Regions from separate parts of the Homo sapiens genome. Here region 2 is linked to region 1. The links come from fine-mapping of genetic effects on gene expression. Tissue or cell type: nasal epithelium. Region 1 holds a variant in brackets; the other region holds the start of a gene. All regions are shown on one strand. Distances are from middle to middle.

Region 1 (11,152 bases):
TAAGCCTGGATAACAACACATCTGTTTATGGCATGGGTTACTGAATATTTTAAACCCACTGTTGAGACCTACTGACCAGGAAAAAGAGTCCTTTCAAAATATTACTGCTTATTGTCAATGAACCTGATCACCCAAGAGCTCTTGTGGAGATGTACAAAGAGATGAATGTTGTTTTCATGCCTGCTAACACAACATTCATTCTGCAGCCCATGGATCAATGAGTAATTTTGACTTTCAAGTCTTATTATTTAAGAAATACATTTTGTAAGGCTGTAGCTGTCATAGATAATGATTCTGCCGATTGATCTTAGCAAAGTAAATTGAAAACTTTCTGATTTTCTTGATGTCATTAAGAACTTTTGTGATTCATGGGAGGAGGCTAAAATATGCACATTAACAGGAGTTTGGAAGAAGTCTATTCTAACCCTCCTGGATGATTTTGAAAGGTTCAAGACTTCAGAGAAGGCAGTAACTGCAGATGTGATGGAAATAGGAAAAGAACTAGAATTAGAAGTGGAGCCTGAAGATGTGACTGAACTGCTACAACTTCATAATCAAACTTTAATGGATGAGGAGTTGCTTTTTATAAAAGAGCAAACAAAGTGGTTTCTTAAAGTGGAAACTACTCTTGGTGAAGATGCTAGGAACATTGTTGAAATGAAAACAAAGGATTTAGAATATTTCAGTAACTTAGTTGATAAAGCAGCAGCTGTGTTCGAGAAGATTAAGTAGAGATTTTGAAAGAATTTCTACTGCAAGTCAAATGCTGTCAAACAGTATGGCATGCTACAAAGAAATCTTTCATGAAAGAGTTAATCGATGTGGCAAACTTCATTATTGTCTTATCTTAAGAAGTTGCCACAGCCACCCCAACCTTCAGCAACCACCACCCTGATCAATCAACAACCATCAACACTGAGGAAAGTCCCTACAACTAGCAAAAAGATAGGACTCACTGCAAGCTCAGATGATCATTAGCATTTTTAGCAATAAAGTATTTTAATTAAGGTATGTACTTTTTTTAGACATAATGCTATTGCACATTTGATAAACTACAGTACAGTGTAAACATAACTTTTATGTACACTGGGAAACCAAAAATTTAGTGTGACTTGCTTTATTGAGAGATTAGCTTTATTGTGATGTGGTCTGGAACCAAACCCACATATCTCCAAGATACACCTGTACGAAGAAGTACATTGCTGCTTTACTGAAGAAAAAAATTGAAAAAAAAAAAAGAGAAAAAAGATGTAGAACCAACTTGAAATGCCCTTAAAGAAATGAATATTATGGTATATCGTTTAAAATAACATGAAAACATTAAAATGATTATAAGGAAGTATGTAATAACCTGGAGTGTGCTTCAGAAAGTTTCATTCATTCAACAAATATTCATTAGAACTGGACATGGCTTCTTCCTGTAAGAAGTTCATTCCCTAGGTAAGGAGATAAGGTGAAGAATGAGAAAGCTCCTTGAGGATAGGTCTCTGTCTTGTCATTTCTCCAAGACCTAGAGCAGTGGCTGACGCACAGCAGACGTTCAATAAATATTGGTTGGCTGGCTAACAAGGATAACACCACACACATAAAAAATTAATTCCAGGCAACATATAACTTAAAGATATCTTAACAAAAACTCTATGAAGGCTTTGGAACTTTACAGAAGAAATCATTGAGACCAAGACGGAGAGAAGCAAAGTTCATCAAAGTAGATGATGCATCCTTGTTTACCTTTGGAAGACCAGAAGAAGATGAGAGGGGGCTTGGCAGTGGGAAGTAGAGCTAAGGTAGCACTTCAGCTGCTAGAGTGTGCTTTGGCACTTGAGTCGCCATGTGGCCAGACCAACAGATCACTGGGCATCTCCACGAGTGACAGCATGGGTGGCAGCAGCTGGCCTGAGGTGGACCTGCCATGTCAGAGGCCCCAGAGTCTACCCAGACTCTCAGGCCAGGCTGGCTGACCCCTGACCTAAAACTGCAGGTGGGGAATAGTTGCTAGAGTGTTGTTTTCTTGTATGTTCCAGTTGGGCAATCCTGGGCTGGATGAGAAATTTCTGCTTGCAAATATATGTCAATTATGTTTCTTTTATAATAATGATAATTATATCAGATTTACAAATCTATGTTCTTTTTGGAATAATTCAGAATGTGTGGCATGCAAATTTTCTTAAACTAAACTGCTGAATGTGCATTTTAAGGATGACTAAATTTACTTTGAAAAAATAACATATTAACATAATTTTACAAACAATATTTAGCTATTATAAATAACCTTACTTCAAAATCAATTTTGTCTTCTTTTCCTGTGTTACAGGTATCATATTTTATCAGGAATTCCTTGGTGCTCCTTTTCTCACTGTATTTATATATCTTTTTGGGTGAGTAAATGTCTCAGAGGTAAAGCATGTGAAATTCTATTACTTTTACGTAGGATTTTCGGCATTGTACCGGAGGTATAGAAAATTGGAAAATAATATAAGAAACATCAGTTTCCTGAGCTCCTAAAAGAAACATATTTTTTAACTTAAGGCCCTAAACAGGGCTCAGCGTCTTTGGCTTTGTGACTTAGGTATATCTCTGCTGTTCTGAAACATTGGGGATTTCCAATTCCAGGCCAAAGACAAGATACATCCACTGGCCCTTGTAGTTACTGCACGACCTTTCTGTACTGTATCAGACCTACTTCGCTCTTGGGAACCCCTAGATTAGATCTAAATTAGAGAATCATGATCCTCTAGGGTCGCCCAAAATAAAAGGCCAAGATGGGCAGATCCCTTGCTTTAGTCATGATAATATCAGGTTGGTAGCATCCCTTTCTTGTGTTAAGAGTGTGCAGCTTGAGCTCTCCCTAGAGATTTGGTGGGCATCATTGCTAGCATTGCTTGCAAACAGAGAGCAGAACTTTGACAATATATCACCAGTGTATAGGAGCTTCCATGACTCCATGAGGCACTTCATTAAATGTTTAGCTGCTCCTTGATCTAGTAGTCAGCATGATCATTGTTATGCAAACTTGAGCCTAGGCTATTTTCGGTGTAGGAAGCCATCTATCTTGAAAATTCAATTTCATAAGATAATTGGGCAAGGCCAAACTTCTGAGGTCTGGAAATTATGACTACTCTTATGGCCAAGGAAAACTAGATTTCTTAGAAAATTAAAGAATAAATTATTTTTTCTCTTGTGTCACATGCCAGAAATGGATCTGGGCGTGCATGGGCAGAAAATGAGACAGGGTGTCCCCAAGGGTTTTGAGCCTGAGTTAGCCCCCAGATGGTAAAAACCTGGGCCAGAGATCTACTGGAATCTGCCCAAGTCTTGGTTCTGGGTAGAACTATTGGCTGTGCTAATTAAGACAAGTACTAGGAAGCTTACCATGAGAAACTGGAAGAACAAAACCAATGGGATTTATGTCATCATGTAGAATATGGAGCTCAGTTATTTAATACCATGAGTCTGTTTCAGTGTTCTTGTATTCTTTATTAATATTATCCTTACAGGTGTTTTCTGTCATTCCTTGGTGTATTTTTGGTCACAAGAAATCGAGAAAAGGAACATCTGCAACAGTCTTATATTGATTTTGGAAATATTCCTGGTAAAATCATATATTCTTTATAGTGGAAAATTTGATCCTTATAAATGAATAGTTATTGGTATTATTTTGGGTGGTAAGTTAATATAAAACATAATTCTTATCCTAAAAAATGTACATTTAATAATGAAACCAAAGGTGCTATTTTCAGTGTAAATGTTTCTAATAATTTATTGAATGTCAGTTTTGCACAGAACTGGGGATATAAAAGAACTGACCATGTTTCCTCGATTTGGGTGATTTGGAGGATTTCCTTTTTGGGTTTCCTTAAATTGGAAAAGGGTAGAGAAAAGAGTAGCAATGACTACCAGCAGCAGACCCCTGCCACTTTGAGAGCCTTGAAGGAACATCCAAGGACAAAGGGTAGGCAGCTAAGGAGCATGTCTTGGGGGAAGCCTGAGGTGGCCTGTGCACTGTGGCTCAGGACAGTCACCAAAACATGAGTAGTTTCTTCCCCCTTCCTCACCCCGCCTACCCAGAGAGCAAACACTCTTTCCCGTTCTCACTCTCACTGAGAAATAACTCGCCTAGTCATGTAGACAACAAAAGCCAAGTCCAGGACAAAGGAAACTGTCTGCTGTGTCACCTCTTCCCCTGTCCACCCGCCCTCAGCACTCTCCAGCCTTACTGGGGATGTAGGGGGACCTATAGGTTTCCAGGCAGGAGTGGAGACATTCTCACAGCTTTCTCCACCATTCTGTTAGCACCATGCCTGTGAAGCAAAAACTAGGGAAGCCTCATCCCTAAGACTGAGAAATATGGCCCCATGCAATGAATTCTGTGTTCTCTTTGCCATTCGAGCCATCTTATCTGCTGGGAGCAGTCAATGAAAGAATTGGCATCAGTGGCAAAGGTGCTTGTGATAGAAGCCTTATATGGTTAGAGGTTCTTTGATAGGAAATAAAGTTTGACTTTTTTTTTTTTTTTTGAGATGGAGTCTTGCTCTGTTGCCCAGGCTGGAGTGCAGTGGCACAATCTCAGCTTACTGCAGCCTCCCCCTCCCGGGTTCAAGTGATTCTCGTGTCTCAGCCTCCCGAGTAGGCACCACCATGCCCGGCTAATTTTTGTATTTTTAGCAGAGGTGGGTTTTCACCATGTTGGCCAGGCTGGTCTCGAATTCCTGACCTCAAATGATTCGCCTGCCTCGGCCTCCCAATGTGCTGGGATGATAGGTGTGAGCCACTGCACCGAGCCTGATTATTTTTAACTCTATTTTTTATTTCACAAAGCTCAGTGCATAGGCTCCGTAGTAGCTTTAGAAGTCACTATCAAAGGCTATTTTTCTATGTTGTTATATGCATTCGACGTGGAAAAGAAGACACAACCCCAGAGAGAAAGGCTTGGAG[G/A]TGAGTGAATGCTTCATGTGAATCTCCAGACTAAACCCACCTGATTTCCATGGCCAGCATGTAGATCCTGTGGGGTGGGGATAGTGGCTCTGACACAGACAATTCGCTATCACATAGCTACAGACATGGCGTTTCAAGGGCCTTTTCTTCCTTGATATTCATCTCTTCTCTTTAGAGAGTGCCCACATAGTATAAAAGAGAGGTGATAAAATGTGGCCTAGATTGAGGAGAAATTATTAAGACTTATTTTTCTGTAAGACCTCAAAAGATTCTCTATGATTATTATCTCCACAGGGAAACAAATGTTGGACAAAATACAACCAGATTCACATAGCTTATCCTATGGAACTTTGCCTGATGGAAGTGACTCAACAAAGAGCCAAAGTGGAGAGAAGAAAGAGGTCTAAATGCTGAGAAGGATGGCTGTTGGCCTGTTATTCGATACCACCTTTTTAAAAAATTGCACATGTTCAATTTGTGTCAGCAGCTCTTTTATAAGCTAACATGTGCTAGCATTCATTTCAGTCCTTTCCCCCACCTCAGCGTCTATGGACAATCGGGGACTTCCTAAGCTCTGACAGTCTAATATTTCCATGGAATGTGATTTGGAGTGTTCCCCACACCCTGGACCTCTCCCTAGTGATTATCTAGCCAGCTACACCTTACTCAGAGCCCGGCTGCTCTAGCAGGAATGTTGCACAGAAACATACATTTGCGGTTTGGCCACAGGTCGCATAGGTGGCTTCTCCCACGGGTAGTGTCAGTTGCTTCACTTTAAAAAGTCACTTCAGCCCCACAACCTCACTCCCAAAAGAAAGGTTTGAGAGCGCTCATTTTTTTTCTAAGACACCTTTTATAAGCCTCCCTATAAAAATCTCACCTTTCAAGTACTAAGTTAGAATTGCAAGTCATCTTTTCTGAAAACTAATGCTATCAAAGTCCTCCTTTGAAAATTAAGGGTCTCTTTAAAATTAGAATTTATAAATGGCATTCAGTGATAGTGTACACCAAAATTAAAAGACCTTGACTGGTGGGCTTTTTACGTGTAAGGAAGAGGAAGTTTAAGAAGTAGGACTCTGCTTGTTTCAGTAGCCCATGTACTAAAATAGGAACAATGCAGAGATTAGCACAGCCCCTGCACAAGGCTGACACATAAATTCATGAAGCGTTAGAGACAAAAAGTAGGACTAATGTTTGTTTATTTTTTAATAAAAATCTAGAATGGTGATGTTTTCTTCAGCTGTATGATTCTATCATACTTGAAACTGAAGAAAAATTTAATATCCTATGTCTTTTTTATAGATCTTATAATTTATCAAGTGGATTTATATGTCTTATTCTCCATATAAGTCTAAAAAATCACATTTAAATTCTTAGTGATAGTTTCACTACACATCATTTCTTCCCAAAGTCATTACCTCAAGCTTTGTAAATTCTTCTAGATAAAAGGAGAGTTGTGATTAGAGAACTGAATTTCAGCCATTTAAACCTGTAGACATAGAAAACAACCCAGTGGTCAAACCTGAGCTTCAAGAGGAAGCCCAAGTCCTCCTGTTTCCTGAATGGCTTTTCCACTCCAATTCATCACATATCTGCTAAGACACATTTGCAGGTAGAATCCATAATAATATCTGTTATTTATGATCTACCTAATATTTAAAGGAGAAGAAAAGAAGTAGCCTTCGTTGCAGCCAACATCCAACAATAAGTCCCACCCTTAATGACATTTCAAAGCCTTCAGATCACTTCTGACATGTCTGTCCAATATCATTCCAATCAATAGTCTTGCATTTAAATAGGTTGTTTAACTCGGTGGTATTGAGACTGTAACCTTAATGGCTCAGGTCTTTTAGCTTTGTTCTTTGTCATAATCTGCACTCCTGGCCAGACTGACCAAACCTGGCTGCAAAGGAAAGAGATTTGAATTGATCACCAATGTATGAAAAATACAGAACCCATGTCTGGCTCCTAAACTCCTGGTAATAATTCCCGCCATCGTAGCAAGTGTCCCATGCATTCAGATAAAGCAGTCATAATTTATGGTGTATTTTACCGAATTGGTCCAGCATATTGGTCCTACAAGGCTCAGCCAAGAAATGTATCTGGTGCCTTAAACTACAGATTTCTGGTGACTCTTAAAACTGGTTTACAAAGATTGAGAAAACAATTAGATTGAAGAGTTTTGCTTCAAGTAGACCTGCATTCATAGCTAGAGTGCATGAGATTTTCAGCACTGTAGAATTTCACACAGGCACAAGCATAACACCAGTACTTTAGCAGCCGCCAACAGTTGCATCTATTAAACGTTTTGAGAAATGACATTGACTTATGCACATTTAAGCAATCAACAATGTTTTAGAAGTCCAGGTAACATATAAAATATATTCAGACCTAGTTTTACTTTCCATATTGTTGCTCCAAAGTAAGGTAAATAGGAGTTTTAGTTGTACTGGCCTGTAAGATTTTTTAAATTACACAGTGCATGACAACAACTAAAGCCAACTCAGTCCTTCTCTTGGCATTGTGAGTTGAGGACCTTTAGCCAACTGTTAGCTCATCTGACTATCTGTCTAGACCAAGGGTCGGCAAAGTTTTCAGTAAAGACCCACAGAGTACATATTTTGGAGTTTGTGTTGTCTGTACCAACAGACAGACATGGTGTCTGTCCCAACTACCCAACTCTGCCATTGTAGCACTAAAGCAGCCATAGACAAGATGTAAACAGAAGAGCATGGCTGTGTTCCAGTAAAACTTTATTTACAGGCCAGGCATGGTGGCTCATGCCTGTAATCCCAGCACTCTGGGAGGCTGAGGCTGACAGATCATCTGAGGTTAGGAGTTTGGGACCAGCCTGGTCAACATAGTGAAACCCCATCTCTACTAAAAGTACAAAAATTAGCCAGGCATGACGGTGGGTGCCTGGAGTCCCAGCTACCTGGGAGGCTGAGGCAGGAGAATCACTTGAACCCGGGAGGTGGAGGTTGCAGTGAGCCGAGATCATGCCATTGCACTCCAGCCTGGGCGACAGAGTAAGACTGTCTCAAAAACAAACAAACAAACAAACAAACAAAAACAAGTGGCCAGTCTGTGAGCTATAGTTCCCAACACCTGGTCTAGACTCTTCTGCCCTTGCTCTGCAGCTTCTTTCCTGTTGATTGGGCATTCAGGGAAGGAGTTTAAAAAGTGACACTCATGGCTCATGACAAATGAGATACTTTGGGAGTGTGGAAACATGGCTTGATATTTGCCTTCAGATATTTTTGCTTATATAAGTTCTAAATGGAAGTGATAAGTTCATTCTTAGGGTCCAAGTTGAAAGGCAGTGGTTCTTTTGTGAACACCACTAACTACATTCGAAAAGCCTCTCCAATTCCACATTCCAAGTCTATAACAGCTTTGGAAATGAGTAACAATGACCTCTCATGTAGTAGATTAAAGCAGAGGCCTTTGCCATATGATTGTTTTTTGGCTTAAATGTTTGCTTGCCCTGTAACTGTAATACTTTGGTTACCAGAATCACTTGAAAACAAATACAATAAAAAAATTTCTCAAGCAGTGACCCAGAATGTATTCTTCCCCCTCTTCAATACCCCACACACTCCTAGAGATTCTGTTCTGTGGCAATGTAAGAAAGAGAAAGGCAGATTTCATAGATGAGTACAATTTCAGTGCTATGAAAGAGTAATGGTGGTAATGTGTAAGTTTGGCTCCAAAGGACGCAGGTGTAATGGTGGACATAACTCAAAGAGATAGAAATGTCGAGCCAAGTTCCCTAAGCCAAGCACCCTCTTTGTGCTCCTGTTTCCAAGCACGCAACTCATCCAGGAATGGTGAGTGTACACACTCAGCCATGCTGAAGGCTGCCTCAGTGCTTGCCAATTTAACAGTGATATGGTGGACATAAATATAGCAGTTACTGACATGAACCTTCCCAACACTCTTCCAGACTGCTTTACTTAAACTCTGTGGCTGGTTATAGAGGCAGTCTTTGCACTGGGCGGCTGCAAGGCTAATGCACATGTTTGGCACCAGTGAATGTGAGTCCTTTAGTGAGGTTGCTAGATAAACACCACACATTTTGAACTATTAGAATAAAATCTCAAAATTGAACCCAACGTGATTGTATGGGGAATTTAGAGGCTGCTTCTAATCGTTAGACTCATCAACAGTCTGGCTCTTATTATGACCATCTTGAAGTAAAACAATAAAATAAAATTCCACACATACACAGTTTCCATGCAAATATAGACCAGCCTTGAGCTATTAAACCTAGCATTTTAGCAATTGTGGTAAATGCAGGGAAGAGCCTTTCCACCCAGGAATTTTTGAGTCTGTTCCCTTTCTCACCAGCCTCAGGGTACCACACAACATGATGTCCTGTGCCAGAAGAGCAAATCAGTTACAGGAGCTGTGGCCCATCCAAGGAAGCTTTTTTTTTTTTTTCCTGAGAGGGAGGAAACTCCTCCTTTAATGTTGGTCCTTATTGAGAGTTAATGAGTCCCAACCACAATGTAAAAGAGAAATATCAATCCCAATATCAAATAAATGTGGTGTTTTGGGGTGCACCCTGCTGGGCCAGGTGCTGCCAAGAGTTTCATGGAGTTCCAGACAAGATGTCAGATAGTCTCCATGTTCCAGGAAAGAATCTCCTTCCCAGGGAGCTGACAAGTGCATAGCCAAGAAAGAGCCCTCCATTCCTGGTGGGACCAGCAAGCATGGACCGAAGCCACTTTGCACATTTGAGCTGCTGCTATCCAAACATGAACAAATCCATCCAGTGTGCACGCATCCCACTTTCAAGCCTTTCCCTCATGGTTCTAATTTGAAAACCAACCTCAGAAATGTTCTGAGGCTTGGGCTCTACTCCCTCTATCCAAAGCACCTCACCTAAACCTTCTAAACACTGTGCATGAACAAGGAGATGAATCAACTCAAGAACTCTTGACCCCAGGGACTCAAAGCCTGGGTTATTTGCCTGATTATAGACTACTAGCTCAATTACCACATGACTCAATCTTAGCAAATGTTCATTAATTCACTCAAATATAATCAATCACCTACAATTTTCAATGTAACATGCATTTTTTAAATAGACTTTATTTTGTAGAGTAGCTTTAGGTCACAGCAAAATTGAGCAGAAGGTACAGAGAATTGCCATCTGCTTCCTGCCCCTTCACAGGCACAGCCTCTCCTATTAGCAACATCCCCCACCAGAGTGGTACATTTGTTACAATCAATGAGCCTACATTGGCACATCATTATCACCCAAACTCCCTGGTTTACGTTAGGGTTCGCTCTTGCTGTTATACATTCTACGGGTTTGGACAAGTGTATGGTGACATGTGCCCATCATGATAGTATCATACAGATCAGTTTCCAAAACCCTCTGTGCTCTGCCTAGTCGTCCCTCCATCCCTGCACGCCCTGGCAACCACTGATCTTTTTACTGTCTCCAAAGTTTTGCCTTTTCAGGAATGTCATATGTTGAAATCATATAGTATGTAGCTTTTTCAAATTGGCTTCTTTCACTTAGTAACATGGATTTAAGGTTCCTCCATGGCTATTTACACTTAGTTGCCCATTTCTTTTGAGTGCTGAATAGTATTCCATTGCCTGGACGTACCACAGTTTATTCGCCTATTCGTCTACTTGGTTGGACAAGTAGATAAATAGATATCATCTTGGAAGGACATCTTGCAATTGCAAAAAGCTTCCAAGTTTTTGCAATTTAAAGTTATTGGGAATATGATGATGAATTAGACCAGCTCTTTGTGAGTTGCCTGTCTAGTTAGAGAAACCATAGCTATCATTTATTGAGCCCTTACTGCTAATCTTTTACTTGTGTTATTCATTTCATCCTTAAAATTCTCTATTAGAGAGGTCCTGATCCCCACTTTACAGATTAGAAAACCATGATAAGAGGCAGGGCAGGGATTAGGGTAAGTCAAGAGAGGCCCAAGGCACACAATTTAATGAAGCTTATGAAAATCTGACTTGTGGGGTGGTGAGAGGACCCTGAGAGTGAGTGCCTCTTTAAATGTTGTGCCCTAGGTGCCTCACTGTGTCCCAGTCCTGGGAAAAGGAGTTAAGTGACTTGACCAGTATCATTCAGCTGGCAAGTGGCGGAGCTGGGATTTGAACCCAGGACATCTAGCTCTGTAACCCACACTCTTAGCACAAGTGGCCAAAGTACCTACACTGTGCAACTGAATGTTGA
Region 2 (8,834 bases), 100 kb before region 1:
TTTCAGACAGGGTGTCACTCTGTACCCCAGGACAGAATGCAGTGGAGCCATCACGGCTCACTGTACCTATACAGATCTCACCATGTTGCCCAGGCTCGTCTTGAACTCCTGAGCTCAAATGATCAGCTCGCCTCCGCTTCCTAAAATGCTGGGATTACAGGCATGAGCCACAGCACCTGGTCTATCCTTTGCTTTTCATTAGGTCTTCCCACATATAGATAGATGTACTTCTAAACAATATATTGTCTAATTTTGCATGCTTTTGAATAATACTGAATATAATCTTCTATGGATTTGCTATTATTATGTTTGTGGGATTCATCCATGTTGCTGTGGCTGTTAGGTGGTTGTCATTCAGGTAATTTCATTGCTGTGTTCCATTATATAAATGTATCAAAATTCATTTGCCCACTATTCCTGCTAATGGACATTTGAGCTGCTTCCAGTTTTTTGTTTGTTTGTTTGTTTGTTTGTTTGTTTGTTTTGCTGTTACAAAGAGTGCTGTTATTCTTATACATCTCTTCTGCTGTCCAGGTACGGAAGTTTCTCTGGGGTATGTACATAAGAGTGAAATTCACATGTACATCTTCATCTTTACCAAATACTGTCAAACTCTTTCCAGTGTCAATAGCATCAGCACTAAATAAGAGTTTCTTTTGCTCCACATCCTTATCAACACTTGGTATGCAAATTAAAAATTTTTTTTTTTGCCAACCAGCAGGTGTAAAATGGTTCTCATTGGAGATATTATTTTGTATTTTTCTGATTACTGGTGAAATGGAAGTATTTTATATGTTTATTAGCCATTTATAGTTTTTCTTATGAAGACCACCTGTTTATATTTTTGCCCATTTTTCTACCAGTTGTCTGACTTTTTCTTATTGACCTGAAGGAGTTATTTATATATTCTGGATGTGAATCCTTGGTCAGTCACATGTATGAGAAATAAAAGTTCTGAGTTTGACTTTTGTTTTGTTTTGTTTTGTTTTGTTTTTTGTGGCAGGGTCTCACTCTATTGCCCAGGCTGGAGTGTAGTAGCATGATCACAGCTCAGGGCAGCCTTGACCTCCCGGGCTCAGGTGATCCTCCTGCCTCAGCCTCCCCAAGTAGCTGAGACTACAGGCATGCGCCACCATGCCTGGCTAGTATTTTTGTATTAAGATTCTCAGTTTCTGACTTATCTTTTTACACTTTATGGTGCCTATTGATGTATAAAAGTTCTTAGTTTGGCTGGGCATGGTGGCTCATGCCTGTAAACCCGCACTTTGGGAGGCCAAGTAGGCAGATTGCTTGAGCCCAGGAGTTTGAGACCAGCCTGGGCAACATGGTGAAACCCCATTTCTACAAAAAAACCCAAAAATTAGCTGGGCGTCATGGTGTGAGCCTGTAGTCCCAGCTACTCATGAGGCTGAGGTGGGAGGATGGATTGAGCCTGGGAGATCAAGACTTCGTCCTGCCAAAATTGTACCACTGCACTCCAGCCTGGGCAACAGAGCAAGACCCTGTCTCGAAAAAAAAAAAAGTTCTTAGTTTTATTGTAATTGCACTTATGAATCTTTGTCTATGTGGATTGTATTTTTTAATTTGTTTAAGGGATGCTTCCCTATTGTAAGGTTATAGCCGGCACCTATTGAGTACTTTCTATGTTTCGGGTACTCCTTATCATCTCCCTTTTACAGGTGATAAAGACAAGGCTCAGAGAAATTGAGCAACTAGATGAGGTCATACAGCAAATAAGCAGTGGAGTCAGGATTTGAACCCAGACAGTCTGCCTTGTGTTTGCACTTTAACAATTGCCAAACTGTTGTTTATAGAGATGATGTCATATGTTATTCTATAAGATTCAAAGTTTCGCCTCTCTCATCAAAGTCTCTAATCTGGACTTGGCTTATGATGTGAGATACCTGAATTAATCCATACCCTTCTCTACTTTGGCCCCTTAAAAGCTCCTAACTTGAGTAATGCTTATTGTAACACAACTAGTATTGACTGAATTGTGCTAGAGATGAATTTTAAAAAAAACATTTTATTCATGGGAACAATCAACAATGCGGACTACTAGAGAGGGGAGGGAAGGAGGAGGGCACAGGTGGAAAAACTACCTACTGGTACTATGCTCACTACTTGGTTGCAAGAAACCCATGTAACAAACCTGCACATGTACCCCTGTATCTAAAAAAAAAGTTGAGAGAAAAAAAAAAGCTGTTTTGTTAATGCTGCCAGTGACTGATCCCAGGCAAGGTAGGCAAAATCTAACCCTGCTCTCTAAGTAAATGATTTGGCACCAGAGTAGAGTTCTTCAAATTAACTGAGGAAGACAGACTTCCACGTTTCAGCCCTTTTTTTAGCTTTTGGCATCCCGTAAAGTGAACAGGATATCCCCTGAAGAAATCCCACGAGAGGTAGAGGCCGTCACAAAGTACGGAACAATCTCCACAGCTCTGCCTACACTGCTGGGACCAAAATAGTTCACATGGCATTCCTGCCGCCTCCTTGTGAACTGTGTGGGAAGGAACGCTGGTCACGAATTCTTCGTTTCAACCACCCACACACACTAGGACAGCAGCAACAGCAGTGACATCTTGGAATCTAGAGAACACCACGTGGTAGGCTGTACATCAAATCTTCTCTGCATCATGTACCATCTTCCTCCAAAATTAGAGGTTTTAAACAAATGTAAAGAAATTGAAAATGTTTTTTTAAATTAAGAAATAAAATGGGAACAAGTTGAGTATAGCAGAGTATCAACTAAAGGGAAAAAAATCAAGCTTTTAAAGAATTAAACTTAGTTTTATTCAGAAGTCTCACTGAATTGTTTGAGGCCAGGAGTTCTAGACCAGCCTGGGAAACATAATGAGACCCCATCTCTACAAAAAATTAAAAAAAAAAAAAAATTGTCTGGGCGTGGTGACTCACGCCTGTAATCCCAGCACTTTGGGAGGCTGAGGTGGGTGGATCATGAGGTCAGGAGATCGAGACCATCCTGGCTAACACGATGAAACCCAGACTCTACTAAAAATACAAAAAATTAGCTGGGCGTGGTGGCGGGCATCTGTAGTCCCAGCTACTCAGGAGGCTGAGGCAGGAGAATGGCGTGAACTCGGGAGGCGGAGCTTGCAGTGAGCCGAGATTGTGCCACTGCACTCCAGCCTGGGTGACAGAGCAAGACTCTGTCTCAAAAAAAAAAAAAGTGTGGACTTCATTATGGCAATAGGGAGGCTTCAAGGCATTTTAAACCAGAAAGTAACACAATCCATTTAGTATTTTGCTTGTTAGCAACTGTACAACTACTTACAATCTGGCTGATAGAAAAATACTAGAGTGGTTGTACCAGGGTTGACTGGTTCCCCTCCCCCATAACCCCATGGCATTCCCACTCATCCTGGTTGGTAGAGCTTACCTCTCACTAGGTTGGAAATACCCAAGAATCACTTTCCCAGCCTCCCTTGCTGGTAGAACATGGGCATGTGACCCAGTCCCAGCCAATGGGATCTGAGGTGAAAGGATGCCAGGAGGATTCTGGAAAAGGCTTTCCTCCCTCAATGGACAAGACCAGTACCTCAGGGATAGCAGAGCAGAAAGGTGGAAGTGACGACATAATAGAACCACATAGAGACACATTCCTCTGGAGATAGCAGATAATTATTGTTTAAGCCACTTTTATTTGGATACTCTGTTACTTGCACCCTAAAGCATGTGAAGAGAAAGAAGCATTAATGAAGTCACCAATATCAATGAATGTGATGTTATAGAAAACTTATCAGACAAGGCATGGCAGCTCACACCTGTAATCCCACCACTTTGGGAGGCCGAGGTGGGACAACTGTTTGAGGCCAGGAGTTCTAGACCAGCCTAGGAAAAATTGCGAGACCCTGTCCCTACAAAAAAATAGAAAAATATTAGCCAGGGCCAGGTGTGGTGGCTCACACCTGTAATCCCAGCACTTTGGGAGGCCAAGACAGGGGGATCACTGGAGGTTAGGAGCTTGAGGCCAGCCTGACCAACACCGTGAAACCCTGTCTCTACTAAAAATACAAAAATTAGCCGGGCTTGGTGGTGTGCACGTGTAGTCCCAGCTACTCAGGAGGCTGAGGCAGGAGCATTGTTTGAACCCAGGAGGCAGAGGTTGCAGTGAGCTGAGATTGTGCCACTGCACTGCAGCCTGGGCAAGAGAGAGAGACTCTATCTAAAAAAAAAAAAAATTAGCTGGGCATGGTGGCATGCACCTGTATGTAGTCCCAGGTGGGAGGATCACTTGGGCCCAGGAATATGAGGCTAAAGTGAGTCAAGATCACACCACTGCACTCCAGCCTGGGCAACAGAGCAAGACCCTGTCTCAAAAAATAAAATAAAATGTAATATAACAAATAGAGACCTTTTTCCTTCAGATATTTATTTGAAGTAAATCAGCCTCTTAAAATTGGGAATAGTTACCTACAATTGTTAGCTGTTCACTGAACATCTCGAGTGCTTAAGCAAGAAACTACACAATTTCTGAGACGACATGTCTTGTTTTTTCTGTATGTGAAATGACTTTTTCTCACTCTTTTCTCTCATTTGCACATTTCCCCTAAGAAACACTGAAAACTGTCCCTGCTCCCTTCTAGGCAGCAATTCTCTTTTCTTGAAGGTCTCTCTTTCATGAACTCATGGAAGTCAAAGCACATTATCTAAGAAAAACCTCAGCATTGTGTAAACAAAAGAAGGCAACTATCAGCCTTCAGGCAACAGTATAGAATCATGGTTTTTTTAAAGTGAGAAATACCCTACAGATCATTTGTGGTCACACATTAGAATTTGAATACAGGTAAAACCAGAACATCTCGTTAGAGTTCTTAAGATTAATAACAACATTTATCTTTCATCCTAAATTCATATATACAGTAGCTGGCAACTTTTCAGCAACTCCACCTGATCCCATCTGAAGCAAACCCAATCCAGTCATCGCACACTGGGGTCCTATGGCTACCACATTCCTCATTCAAGGAATATTTACTAAGGATCTATCAAGCACTGGCACTGAGATTCAATCGCTCGGATCTTTTTTTCTCATATTGCTTACAATATTTCTGGGAACTCATGACTTTTTCATATGCAATCAATTTTTAAAATATCGGTGAGAAACACTACATATGTGATAGAGGACTGGAATTGCCAGGTAGAGATGGGAGATGATAGCTGCTTTGGGTTAGTCAGTGTCTCCTCCTCTTCCATTGACTTGGACAAATGTTTACAACGGAGATGATCTGATTCTGGCCCCGACAGGCGCGGGGACCCGTTGCGGACGGCCGCGGGGATTGCCCCCTTGGGCAGTGCGGCCCCGAGGATGCAGACACTGGCCCAGCGGAAGGAGGGCGCGGTGCGAGCTGGACGGCCCCGGGAGGCCGCAGACCGCCGGGCTCCCCGAGGACACCTCGCACCGGAGGAGGAGAGGAGGCAGCGCCCGGCCAGGCTGGGAGCACCTACGGCCGCGCGGGGGCGGGAGCCAGGTGGCCTCGGCGCGCCCGCCTCGCCCGGGCACCGAGCAGGAAGTGGCTGCGGCGCGGCCTCCTCGCGGTGCAACAGGGCGGGGAGGCGGCCGCAGCCCGAGCCGGAGCCCGAGCGCCGGGAGCGAGACCTCATGGCAGCGGTGGCGCCCGCGGGCCCCGGGGACTCCGCCTCGGCCGCCCTGGACGAGCTGTCACTGAATTTCACGTACGGGGCACCAGGCGCCGGCAACGGCTCCCTCTCGGGCGACTGGTACCGCAGGAACCAGGTAAGGGCCGCCCCGCAGCCACCGCAGCCCGGTGGGGACGCGGCCAGGGCGGCTGGCTCCGGGCGCCTCTGCGCCTCGGCCGCTTTCCTGCCAGCTCTCAGGAAGACACCCGGCCTCTCCGAGTGGGAAGAGGTGACATGCAATGTTTCCCGCATTGACCTAAGTCCGCCTCATCCGGAAGCGCGGGGGTCCGCCCAGTCTTCCTCTCCCGGGCACCCGGCACTGGGAGTGGGCGCCCAGGTCTTCGGCCTTGACCTCAGCCACCCGTTCCTGGGACCTCCGGGTCCCGATCCCGCCTCCCCAGCCTGCGTCCGCCCTCTTCTCCCGGAAGGAATCTAGGAGTGTGGGGGCAATTCACTCATTTTCACCCCAGGATCCTTTTACAGTTAAAAGAAAAGAAAAAAGTGACACCCTGTTATCAGAAGCAGAAAACTCATTAAGGGCAGCCTAATGTCACCTCGCGCAGATGCCCTGCGTGTGTCCCTGGTATCTCAACACAGCTCTTCCATTTCCGTGCGAGGAACACATTTTCTCAGGTTGCATTTGCAGGACTCTCATTCTTTCCCACCGGCCCTTTGGGAAAACTTTGTTAACTTAAACAACGCCAGTTTACACTGGAAATATACATTTAACAAAATCAAAGGGACTTGGAGCCGCCCATTTATTTTTGGCTTGGTTTAAGATGAGGAAGTGTTCTGGCCAGCCCTTCCTCTAGCAGCGTTCATATTGCAACTAAGTTTTATCACGGTGGATTCCAGGCTTCCTCCTGTTTTCATTAAATGTGTTACTTTGTTCTTGTTCTTTAACAAAACCATGGATACTTTTATTTTTGCAACAATATAATCAGAAAATATTTGTTGCTGTTGTCCTAAATCGGAGAGTTTAACCAATTATCAAAGATCTGGATTCCTTTTATGCCTGAAGTGTTCTAAATATTAATTTCTGAATGCAGAAGAGAATATATTTGTATAAAGAATAAGTAAGATAAATAAGCATGTTCACTTTATTAGTTTTCAAGAGGGGAGAGTATTGCTTTAAGTCATTTCATCATAAAAGATATAAAAATAGGAAAAATGAGGGTACTCAGAGCCTCTTGATCAATGTTTGTAATCCAACCCCATTTCTCCTTTCTTCTACCCACAGGAATTACAAAGAAAAGCATCATTTTTATGGGAACTTGAATCTATCTATTATATTATTCTTTTATTAGAAGTATTCCCAATATAAGTTTAAGAATGAGTTATCTATCCCCTCTTGATTAAAAAAAAAAAAAAAATAGAGGGTTAGCAGATGTGATCATCCAAAAACAGGACATTGTTTTCACAGTGGAAACCTCTGTAGTCATTAGTTTTCTTTGACATTTCCTGGAATTCTTGATTGTCTTGGCTGTCTGATATCCAAACACAGATTATCATGTGACATAAATGTGAGGCAAATAAATACTGTTTGCAAGGCTTAATTTGCCTTTGACAGTGTGTATTTGTACAGGTTAGAAAGGATGTATCCAGAATGTGCTAATTGAAATTACTGAGCTGACATCTAAACTTTGCTGGTTTGAGATAAAACTGTATCAAGTTTTGCCATTATTGTGCAAATTTAGGCCCTCTTATAAGATGGTGGTATTTTATCTTTTCAGTAATTGCATTTGTGTTAAGCAAAAGTAAAAATTAATTTTTAAAAAGTTTACTCGAGAAGCATTTTATTGAGTGCCTCTGGTGTTGTCCAGGCCAGTAAAAATAAAATTGAGTCTAATTTTTCTTGTCTTTTTTGACACTGAATAGAAATGGCTGAAAATGGGTGTGGATACAGAAAAACAAAGTGTGAGATATAAATGTGTCACTCCCACAATCAAAATGAATGTTGGTTGCTAACTAGCCACAGCTTAATGATGCTTATTTGCTTGCCTCCATTGGTTTTATCACAACTAAAATATTTGCACAGTGTGTGTTGGCTGATAGCCTAGTTCTCTGTCCCTTTATCCCTTCCAAAGTGATTATCATCAAATCTGATCAATTAACCTTACTACATAGAAAAAGACAAACTTCCCTGGAATGCTTTCATGTAATACATGTTTAACAGTGGCCACTTAGAATCAATGTTGTCTAAGACAAAGGTGTGAGTGCTTCTGGAGGAAGAAACCTCAAAGCAACTCAAAAGTAGTAGTTCAGTGGGGGAAGATGTCTTAGGAGCAGGGAAGTGAAGTCTTTGCCCTTTGCACTACTCAGACGCTGTGTGCTTGGTGAAAAGCCTGGCCTATAGAAGTATAGAAGTGATGGAGTTGTGACAGGTAAACAAAAGGCACTTTATGTTTGATCCACAAGTTTTCAGTAGAGAAGGATAATGTTCCCAAGATGTTTATTGAGCTCCATGCTATGTACAAAGCACTACAGGGATATTCAATATAGTGCAAAACCCAAACTCTTCCTTCTGTGAATATTATTAGGTGTTTGGGAAAATGAGCTATGTAGGTAATGCCAAAACAAGGCAGTATGTTGTAAGTGTCATGTGAGTGATATAAAGTCCCATGGAAATTCAGAGCAAAGGGGCATTTGGCTGGGCCATCAGGGATGTTTTGTGGAGAGGTGGTATTTGAGCTGGATGGTTAATGATGGACAGGGTTTCATTGATAGGCATGCACAGTGTAGGGCACTGCAGGAAAGGAAAAAGCTTAGGGACCCAGAAGCAGCCCTCATGGCCAGGACTGGTGCCTTTCTGAATATTTTCCTTCCTAGAGTACAATTCAACTATCATTCTGGTTGCGGTGGAAGATGGAGACTGACTATAAGGTAGAAATATGGTTTGGGGTCTTGGATATAGTCATGGGTTGCTTTGAAGGACTGGTGACAAAGTTTGGACTTTACCTTGCAGACAGTGGGGAGCCATTGAAGATTTTTTTGAGCAGGAGTGCAGGAATCAAAGCAAATTAAATTTAAAAAAATTTAAATTAAGGCTAGCAGGATTCAGTTTTCAAACTGGCCAGCTGTGGACTAAATCCAGCCTACAGATACATCTTGTTTGACCAGCAGAGAGGCTTCAAAGTCTTCAATACATTGCCAACACTTAAAAATGAGAAGATTAA

What was found. PIP is the estimated chance that this variant, and not a neighbour inherited with it, causes the effect.
Region 2: NIPAL2 starts here. The variant in region 1 is fine-mapped to the expression of NIPAL2 in nasal epithelium (TOPMed, PIP 0.98).

The regions. Positions count from the first base shown.
Region 1 is chr8:98,187,168-98,198,319 of GRCh38, reverse strand. NIPAL2 (NIPA like domain containing 2) reads left to right here. Exons shown (of 11, transcript NM_001321635.2): 9 at 2,315-2,378; 10 at 3,498-3,592; 11 at 5,230-8,494. The coding sequence ends at 5,342. All of the region lies in intron 2 of NIPAL2-AS1 (NIPAL2 antisense RNA 1), which reads right to left. It also overlaps the pseudogene RNU6-914P. Among named protein-coding and RNA genes, the nearest start is that of NIPAL2-AS1, 16 kb to the right of the region's middle. The variant G/A (reference allele first, on the strand shown) is at 4,936.
Region 2 is chr8:98,290,924-98,299,757 of GRCh38, reverse strand. NIPAL2 (NIPA like domain containing 2) reads left to right here and starts at 5,523. Exons shown (of 11, transcript NM_001321635.2): 1 at 5,523-5,755. The coding sequence starts at 5,621. The region is part of intron 5 of LOC105375659 (a long non-coding RNA gene); the gene reads right to left. RefSeq lists a silencer at 5,284-6,003.